Linked DNA regions of Homo sapiens: region 1 is linked to region 2. Evidence: fine-mapped expression QTL. Tissue or cell type: whole blood. Region 2 holds a variant in brackets; the other region holds the start of a gene. All regions are shown on one strand. Distances are from middle to middle.

Region 1 (5,118 bases), 33 kb after region 2:
GCACTTTGGGAAGCCAAGGCAAGAGCGTTGCTTGAGCCTGGGAGGTTTAGGCTGCAGTGAGCTGTGAGCGTGTCACTGCACTCCAACTTGGGTGAAAGAGCAAGACTCTGAAGAAAGGAAAGGAGAGGAAAGGAAAGGGGGGGAGGGGAGGAAAGGGGAGGGGAGGAAAGGGGAGGGGAGGGGAGGAAAGGAAAGGGGAGGGGGGAGGGGAGAGGGGAGGGGAGAGGAGGAGAAGGGAGGGGAAAGGGGAGGGCAGGGGAAAGGGGAGGGGAGAGGAAGGGAGGGGAAAGGGGAGGGGGGAGGGGAGAGGAAAGTGGGGGGAGGGGATACTCCACTGGAAAAAGCATGGAGATTTCAAAAAAGAGGGAGACACTTGATCCAAGAAACAGTAGGCCTAACCCAGAAGCACAATGAGAAAGAATTCCCAGATCATAGCTCTGTGCATGTCTAGAAAACAATTTGTCCTGATGAGAACATAAAGTCAGTGAGCTCTGGGAAGAATTTAAGAGAATTTCATTAAACAGGTAATATGACACTAATAAGCTAGAAGACATCATAAGGTTTAAAAATTTAAAACAGCTTATGTTCTTTTTTGCCAAAACTAAAAAAACAGGGCAAATAGGGCCATTTATGAAAGACATGGTCCAAATGATAAGCAAACTTCATTGTGGTACATTAACTGAATGTAACAAAAGATGACCCCTTTGACCCTGACACCAGAAACATTGTTCCCTGAGTAGAGTGAGCTTAGAATACAGGACTCCATTGTATCTATTGGTCCAATCTGACTATTTGGTTCTGCAATGAAAACGTATATAACCATGATGTTATAGTGTTTATTGGTTTTCATTTTTAAAATCAACCTATAAACAAATCACGGACAATGTAAGTTACAGAGTAACTTAAAGAAATGTAAAGAGAATAGCATAGAAGATGACAGGGTCAGGAAATTAGTGGGTTTAGGGAGAAATGGGGAGTGCAGGGCAGTAGCTTCTTAATCTTAACTAGGGGAAAGTTAAAAAATACTATCTAAGGTTGGCCTAGCGCGGTGGCTCACGCCTGTAATCCCAGCACTTTGGGAGGCCAAGGCGGGCGGATCACCGGAGGTCAGGAGTTCGAGACCAGCCTGACCAACATGGAGAAACCCCATCCCTACTAAAAATACAAAAATTAGCCAGGCATAGTGGCACCTGCCTGTAATCCCAGCTACTCGGGAGGCTGAGGCAGGAGAATCGCTGGAACCCAGGAGTTGGAGGTTGCGGTGAGTAGAGATCGTGCCACTGTACTCCAGCCTGGGCGACAAGGGGAATTATCTTTAAAAAAAAAAAAAAAAAAAGGCCGGGTGCAGTGGCTCACGAAGTCAGGAGATCAAGACCATCCTGGCCAACACGGTGAAACCTCATCTCTACTAAAAATACAAAAATCAGCTGGGCTTGGTGGCGGACATCTGTAATCCCACCTACTCGGGAGACTGAGGCAGGAGAATCTCTTGAACCCTGGAGTCGGAGGTTGCAGTAAGCCAAGTTCGTGCCATTGCATTCCAGCCTGGTGACAGAGTGAGACTCCATCTCAAAAAAAAAAAAAAAACAAAAACCTAAGGTTTATATAACATAAAATACAAATTAAGGAGTATTATTCAACACATAAAGGTAAGTGATGGGGAAAAAATAATAGGAGTGAAGGTAGAAGAAAATGTATGCAAATTAAATTCCTCATCTTTCAGTGGGGAATCAATAGATAAGAATAATACAGTAATATCTAACATTTATTGAGTGTTAATGAAAGCAGGCACTGGTCTATGCACTTTTACACATAATATCTCACTTAACCTTCTTAAACACCCTATAATGTTGCTATTATTATTGTGCCCATTGAATGAATTAGGAAACAAGACATGTTAAGTGAGTTTGCCAAGGTCATACAAGTAAATACAAAATCCTGAATTCAAACTCAAGCACCCAGGCTGCACTCTCTCAACCTCTTAAACTGTGACAAGTCATATTTAAACTTAAGTCAGCTAAAATTTAATAAACTTTTAAATATGTCTCCTCAGCCACCCCGGCCCCGCAGCAGGGGCCGAGGCCGCCTCCAGGCCGGGCGCGAGGAGACGGGCCGCGGCGGCGACCCCAGGCCTGAGGCTGCACAGACCGCCTCTCCCGACCGCCGGGAGCCCGGCGTCCTGCCATCCCTCGCGCCGACGGCCAGCCGCGCCTCCGTTTCCCTTCCTGCCTCGGAGGCACCGCGGCTCCTCCGGGAAGCCCCGGCCCGGCCGAGAGAACCGCTGCGCAAAGGGAGGGCGGCGGCGGCGCTGCTAGCGGCGCCCGAAGGAGTCCGCGAAGCTCGACCACCCCTCGCCCAGACCCAGCGCCGCACCGACCTTCCCGGGCTCCATCGCTTCCCGCAGGCCCGGGCGGCCGCGGTGTCCTCGGCCCCGGCCAGGCGCGGTCCACCCCGAAGAGGCCACCTGTGCCCCGCACCCTTCGGGAGGCGCGTCCCAGCGCCTAGCAACCGACAAGCAGGAGCAGCAGAGGGCCCAGAAGCACTGCCCAGCGTGCCCTGCGGCCTCTCCCAGTGCGCCTGCGCATCCCCGGCATTTTTAGCACCTGGCAGGCAGGAGCAGGGGAAGGCCGAGTGGTCGCTGCTCGGCGTGCCCGCGGCCCCTCCCAATGCGCCTGCGCTTCCCCGGCTCCTAGCAACCGCCAGGCAGGAGCAGCAGAGGACCGAGCGGTCGTTGGTCTCCCCAAGGGGTAGGTGCAGTACCCTGACTTGGGGTGCAGGGGCTCTTGACTCGCCCCAACCCGCCCCGGGTTCCCACGGGACCGGACTGACAGTCGGGGAAGATAGAAAGGGAGAGCAGATATTGAAAAGAGCTTTACGTTTGAGGCCGAGCGCGGTGGCTCACCCCTGTAATCCCAGCACTTTGGGAGGCGGAGGCGGGTGGATCATGAGGTCAGGAGATCGAGACCATCCTGGCTAACACGGTGAAACCCCGTCTCTACTAAAAATACAAAAAAAAAAAATAGCTGGGCGCAGTAGCAGGCGCCTGTAGTCCCAGCTACTCGGGAGGCTGAGGCAGAAGGATGGCGTGAACCTGGGAGACGGAGCTTGCAGTGAGCGGAGATCACGCCACTGCACTCCAACCTGGGCGACAGAGCGAGACTCTGTCTCAAAAAAAAAAAAAAAAAAAAGAAAAGAGCTTTACATTTGAATAAGGCTTTGCACTTAACAAATTATATTCCCATATGTCGTCTTTTGATAAAAACAAGCAGTAAGGTAGGCAGGAATCAACGTTGAGAGACTGTTTTTATACAACACGTAAGGGAAAATCAAAAACTCTCAGGACCTCCGAACTCCTTCAGCCAAAGGGAAAGTTAGGGCTGAAAGCCTGAAACCGCCTTTTCAAAATTATGACTGAGGCAGTAAAAGAGGTGTAACTTAACCCACAGCATCTTGCTTCTGACCTCCAAGCTGTGCTTGTTCCTTCCTGGCAGTAGGCTGAACTAACTTTGGGAGAAACTTAGTTTATATTTTATAATTTAAACACAGACGGTAACAGCCCTTTCCCAAAGCAGGCCTTCTTGCCTGGGGACTTGATTGCCTTTGTAGGACTGATGTTAGCCACAAGATTAGAAATTACGTTTTAGGAGTAGTTTCTAATATGCAGCTGGAGGCTACAATATTCTGACCCTCCCTAAACTGCTCCTAAGATCAGTGCTTGAGATATTTTGCAGAACCTGCACTTGATGGATCAGCTGGCACCACCCAGATCAATAAACTGGCTCATCAGATCTTGTGGCCCCTCACCCAGGAACTGATAAGGGCAAGAAGACCGCTTTGACTCCCTATGATTTCATCTCTGACCAATCAGCACTCCTGGCTCACTGGCTTCCCCCCACCCAAGTTATCCTTGAAAACTCTGATCCCTGAATGCTTCAATGCTCAAGGAGATGGATTTGAGTAATAATAAAACTCTAGTCTCCTGCACAGCCAGCTCTGTGTAAATTACTCTTTCTCTATTGCAATTCCCCCATCTCGATAGGCTCTGTCTAGGCAGCGGGCAAGGTGAACCCCTTGGGTGGTTGCAAGCCGAGTCGCCCAACACCCTCTTCCAAATGCACAGCTGTTGCTTTGCAGGCTGCAAGGCTCCTGCCAGCCAGGCCCCCGTGAAGGCAGGGCCGGGCACCTTGGCCCCCACCAGTCTCCCAGGTGTAAATGTTTTGCCAGCCTGGAGACCTTTCAAGATGTGTGTCCTCACTTAAACAAAGACACGCCAATTGTAACTTTAGATCTGCAACTTAAGTCTGAAACTACCTCTGCAAGAATTAGAACTGAGAAAATTATGACAGTGAAAGAGATCTAACCTGACTCCATCTTGCTTCTAACCTCCAAGCTGTCCTTGTCCATTCCTGGTCGTAGAATAGTTTAACTTTGAAAGAAAGATAACAGCCCTTTCCCAAAACAAACCCCCTTCTCTTTTTTTATTATTATTATACTTTAAGTTCTGGGGTACATGTGCAGAACGTGCAGGTTTGTTACATAGGTATACACATGCCACGGTGGTTTGCGACACCCATCAACCCGTCATCTACATTAGGTATTTCTCCTAATGCTATCCCCCAGCCCCCCCCGACAGACCCCCACGTGTGATGTTCCTCTCCCTGTGTCCATGTGTTCTCATTGTTCAACTCCCACTTATGAGTGAGAACATGCGGTGTTTGGTTTTCTGTTCTTGTGATAGTTTGCTGAGAATGATGCAAACCCTCTTCTTGCTGGGGACTAGATGGCCTTTGGAGGACTAACAAATTAGCCATGAGATTAGAAATTATGGTTTAGGAGTCATGCAGCTAAAGGCCACAAGATTCTAAACCTCCTCAATTACTCCTAGGGATAATATCACTATTGTAAAACCTAAGATTGGTGCTTGAGACATTTTTCAGTCCCTTCACTCAATGGGTCGGCTGGTGCAACCCAGATGGATAAACTGGCTCATCTGGTCTTGTGACCCCCACTTAGGAACTGACTCAGCGCAAGAAGACAGCTTGGATTCCCTGATTTCATCTCCAATCCTACCAATCAGCACTCCCCACTTCTCAACGCCCCCCCACCCACTAAATTATC
Region 2 (5,000 bases):
ATCAAGCTCCGCGCTACGTCCTTCAGAGGCCCCGTCCGCAATTCTTCCCTTATATGAGGATACCTGCATTTCCTTGATCTATCCAGTTTTGCATATATATTCTGAAAATTATTTATAACTTTGTGTAATTCTCAGCAACCATGGCCTGGATCGTGTCTTTTGTGATTTCTCTATTAGGTGTCTTCAAATCTCCTCACTTTCTTCAACTTACACACAGAGCAACAATGGGAAGGCTGTCTGTTCATTCACCCTAAACCTCTTCCCTCCAATTTCTTTGCAAAATCCTCTCCTCTTCCAGGAAGAAAGAGGCTCAAGTACCTGACGGTGTGCACACAACCCAGTTACATTCCTTGACCCCCACAACCCAGACAGCTTTCAACATGACCGAGGACTTCAAACAAGGGCAAGTATGAATTTCATATGAAAATCTCATCTGTCCCTTCATGCTCATGTTCTGCTGTCTGAAAGGGACAATAATTGCACTAGCAAAATGCTGACAGGAAAGCAAGCAAATGTGAGTGGGTCTGTGCTGGGACAGGATTGCAAACTATAAGAAGACGTACTCTCCTTACCACGGTTTCCTCGCCTCCCGGCCTCTGGTCCAGCTTCCACCACACAGAAGAGCCTTCCTCGTGGCCATGCTAATGGAGAGAGAACAGCCCCATCAGCCAGGACACAGGTGGGACTCCAGGGCACACGCCACGCAGCTCCCCCCCACCCCACCACTGCGGAGCCCGCCAGCCCTCAGCAAACAGGTGCACAGACTACGAAACTAACGCTCTGGGATGCAGGTCCCAGCCTGGTGGCTGACAAACTGTGTGACTTAGAGCAAGTATCTTCAACCCTCTGTGCCTCGGCTTTCCCTTCTGAAAAATCAGAATTATGGCATCTGCTTCACAGTAGCAGTGAGAGGAGTGGATAAAAGGATACACATGAAGTCCAGATCCCTGCATCTGATGAAGAAAAAGCCTTGCAAATGTCACCTTTGTCAATGACACTAGGAAGATCTATGCACTTAGAAGTCACTACCCAGGCTGGGCACAGTGGTTCACGCCTCTAATACTAGCACTCTGGGAGGCCGAGGCGGGCGGATCACCTGAGGTCAGGAGTTCAAGACCAGCCTAGCCAACATGGTGAAATCCCGTCTCTACTAAAAATAAAAAAATTAGCCAGGCATGGTGGCGGGTGCCTATAATCCCAGTTACTTGGGAGGCTGAGGCAGGAAAATCTCTTGAACTCAGGAGGCAGAGGTTGCACTCCAGCCTGTGCGACAAGAGCGAAACTCAGTCTCAAAGAAAAAAAAAAAGAAGTCACTACCCAAAACTAGGCAGTGTCTAAAACTGGTGACAGTATAAAGTATTATTCATGAAGAAAATAGAAAAAGAACTTCCCATGTGTCCAGAAAACTATTCTGGCACATAGCAGGCACTCCATAAATGCTGAAGAATTGAACCAAGATAAATTCAGTGTTGCTGCTGTAAAATCAGGATCTAATCAGAGCCAAAACAAGCTGTTAGATACATTCACAATCAACTGAAATTTTTCTAGAAAAAAACACATCATATATTTTACTCCTCTGGAAAAGAAAAAAAAAGAATGTAAAATATCCCATTGGTTACCTCACTGATAATTTTTATACTGATTACAGGTTGCACGGATACTATTTTAGATTTATTGGATTATATAAGATGTTATGAAATTAATTTCATGTTTCTTCTGTATGTTTTTAATGTGACTATAAGAAAACTTAAAATTATAGGCCAGTTGTGGTGGCTCGCACCTGTAATCCCAGTACTTTAGGAGGCTGAGGCAAGAGGATCACTTGAGCCCAGAAGTTCGAGACCAGCCTGGGCAACAGAGCAAGACCCTACCTCTATTTTTTTTTTTTTTTTTTTTTTTT[G/TG]AGAAGGAGTCTCACTCCGTGGCCCAGGTTGGAGTGCAGTGACACGATCTCGGCTCACTGCAACCTCCACCTCCCGGGTTCAAGCGATTTTCCTGCCTCAGCCTCCCAAGTAGCTTGGGATTACAGGAGGCCACCACCACACCCGGCTAATTTTTGTATTTTGAGTAGAGACGGGAGTTTCACCATGTTGGTCAGGCTGATCTCAAACTCCTGACCTCAGATGATCCCCCTGCCTCGGCCTCCCAAAGTGTTGGGGTTACAGGCCTGAGCTACCATGCCTGGCCTTTTTGTTAATTTTGTTGTTGTTGTTGTTTTTATATAGATGAGGACTTCCTATGTTGCCCAGGCTGGTCTCGAACATCTGGCCTATTTTTTTCAATAAAAATACAAAATAAAATTTAAAATTATAAATGTGGCTCACATTATAATTCTAGTTAACAATGCCAACCTGGAGCTTAGAGACAAAATTGGGAAACATGAAGAAAATAGGAAAAGAAATCTATACGTTTTCATCCAGTATTTCCACAATTCCACTTCAAGAAATGTATCCACAAAAAAAATGCGGTAGATCTATATCGTCCAAACTGGAGGGATTTCCACTATGAACTAGGAAAAACAGGAGGGGTGGCCAGACGTGGTGGCTCACACCTGTAATCCCAGCACTTTGGGAAGCCGAGACAGGTGGATCATGAGGTCAGGAGATCGAGACCACCCTGGCTAACATGGTGAATCCCTGTCTCCACTAAAAATACAAAAAATTAGCCAGGTGTGGTGACAGGCGCCTGTAGTCCCAGCTACTCAGGAGGCTGAGGCAGGAGAATGGCGTGAACCCGGGAGGCAGAGCTTGCAGTGAGCCAAGATCGCGCCACTGCGCTCCAGCCTGGGTGACAAAGCGAGACCCCATGTCAAAAAAAAAAAAAAAAAAGAAAAACAGGAGGGGTGTGTGTGTGTGTGTGTGTGTGTGTGTGTAAATGTTTAAAACTGGCTTCCAAACTCCTAAATATACATACCAATATATGATTATAAAAGATTATATGAGAAGAAATATTTGTAGGTATTTTTTTCTGTGGTAAATGTGTGGCTATAGCCAGATAATAAGCAATCCAACCACCACCACCAAAATTAAAGAAATAAAACATCCACGTCAAAACAACAGGTGCTGTATGACCTAATTTATGTAAAATTATGTTTGTGTACGGACATAGAATAAAGCAATTCATAAAAATACTGCACAAAGGCCAAGCGCAGTGGCTCACGCCTGTAATCCCAGCACTTTGGGAGGCCAAAGCAGGTGGATCACCTAAGGTCAGGAGTTCAAGATCAGCCTGGCCAACATGGTGAAACCCTGTCTCTACTAAAAATACAAAAATTAGCTGGGTGTGGTGGCGCATGCCTGTGATCCCAGCTATTCAGGAGGCTGAGGCACGAATCGCTTGAACCCAGGAGGCAGAGGTTGAGGTGAGCTGAGATCACGCCACTGCACTCCAGCCTGGGCAACAGAGTGAGACTCCATCTCAACGTATATATATATATATATGTATGTATGGCACAAAATTGTTAAATATGATTACCTCAGAATCATGGGTTTCAGATAACGATCAAAGAAGAAAAAATTATTCTCCAGAAATAATTCATAGAATCCAAAATATGCTTGCCACATTATCTGTAATAACAAAACAAAAAGGCTGGGTGCGGTGGCTCACGCCTGTAATCCCAGCACTTTGGGAGGCCGAGGTCGGCAGATCATGTGGTCAGGAGTTCCAGACCAGACTGGCCAATATGGTGAAACCCCATCTCTACTATAAATACAAAAATTAGCCGGGCATGGTGGCGCATGCCTATAGTCCCAGCTACTCAGGAGGCTGAGGCAGGAGAATCGCTTGAACCCGGGAGGCGGAGGTTGCAGTGAGCCGAGATCGTGCCACTGCACTCCAGCCTGGGCAACAGAGTGAGACCTGTCTCAAAAAAAAAAAAAAAAAAAAAAAAGGACAATGGTTTGATAATAACCCTAACTCCACAGTGTGCTATTTTAGAGTCACTAAGTAATCATTACAAAGCCTACTCTTATGATCCTAATGGAGACAGTGAAGATAATGAAGACTGTGGAGAAACGCTGATGTACTAATTGACAAGCTCAGCACAGGGTACAATTCTCCCTGTGCATAAATACATGTCACAAGGTAGCTTAACACATGGAAACAATTATGCAAGGAGAGGGATGATGATTGTGTGTTAGTAACAAGTGTCTATTAATAACATGTGCTTGGTAGAATTTGCCAGAGAAGCCATCAGAGCCTGAGCGACTTTGTGGGGAGATCTGTAACACAAACGCAATGTCTTGACTCACTATAGGTCTATTCAGGCTACTGCTTCCAGCAGTTTTAGTAACTGATAGTCTCTAGGAATTTGTCCTTTCATCTAAATTACCTAATTTGTTACCATAAAATATTGTCCTACCTGTTACTGAAAGTGGGGTGCTAAAGTTACTATTATTATTAATTGTCTCTTTCTCCCTTCAATTCTGTCAGTTTTTGCTGCTTGTGTTTTGGGACCCTCTTGTTAGGTAAATATCCATTTACAATTGTTTTATCGCCTTCTGCTGAACCAATTATTTGCTCATTCTGAATTGTCTCTCTCTAGTAACACTTTCTGTCTCAAAATCTGTTTTATCTGATACTAGTGTAGCCAATCCAGCCCTCTCATAGCTGCTGTCTGATAGATTCTCTTTGTCCACCTTTTTACTTTCAATCAATTTGCATCTTCTAACCTAAAGTGAGTCTCCAGTGTGCCTTCTGGGATCACCACTCGAATAAACCATCTGCAAATGAGCCCTGTCTCGGCCTCTGGTTTCAAGGGGAAGCCCAAAGTAAGATTATGGTTAATCTCAATGTACCATAAAATCAATGTATTCTCAGTGGAGACTGCCTTACCTTCCGTCTTGAATCTTTATCTTTTCCATGATTCCTTACTAAATTCTCAGCATGCCTGGAAAGCAAACATAATCAAAATCAAAACTTACTTTAAATGAGAGCTTTTAAAAAATAAAACATTTTCCATATCAGTGAAAGCTCTTAACAATATTTTGATATGATTAAGAACT

The links. PIP is the estimated chance that this variant, and not a neighbour inherited with it, causes the effect.
Region 1: it holds the start of DYNC2I1, and the variant in region 2 is fine-mapped to the expression of DYNC2I1 in whole blood (INTERVAL, PIP 0.92).

What each region holds. Positions count from the first base shown.
Region 1 is chr7:158,854,010-158,859,127 of GRCh38, reverse strand. It overlaps DYNC2I1 (dynein 2 intermediate chain 1), which reads right to left and starts at 2,570. Exons shown (of 25, transcript NM_018051.5): 1 at 2,378-2,570. The coding sequence starts at 2,392. It overlaps LOC124901796 (a long non-coding RNA gene), which reads left to right and starts at 2,606. Exons shown (of 2, transcript XR_007060627.1): 1 at 2,606-2,747; 2 at 3,732-3,990. RefSeq lists an enhancer at 1,153-1,694 and a silencer at 2,045-2,514.
Region 2 is chr7:158,886,906-158,891,905 of GRCh38, reverse strand. DYNC2I1 (dynein 2 intermediate chain 1) reads right to left here. Exons shown (of 25, transcript NM_018051.5): 7 at 4,831-4,885; 8 at 573-641. Among named protein-coding and RNA genes, the nearest start is that of DYNC2I1, 33 kb to the right of the region's middle. The variant G/TG (reference allele first, on the strand shown) is at 1,901.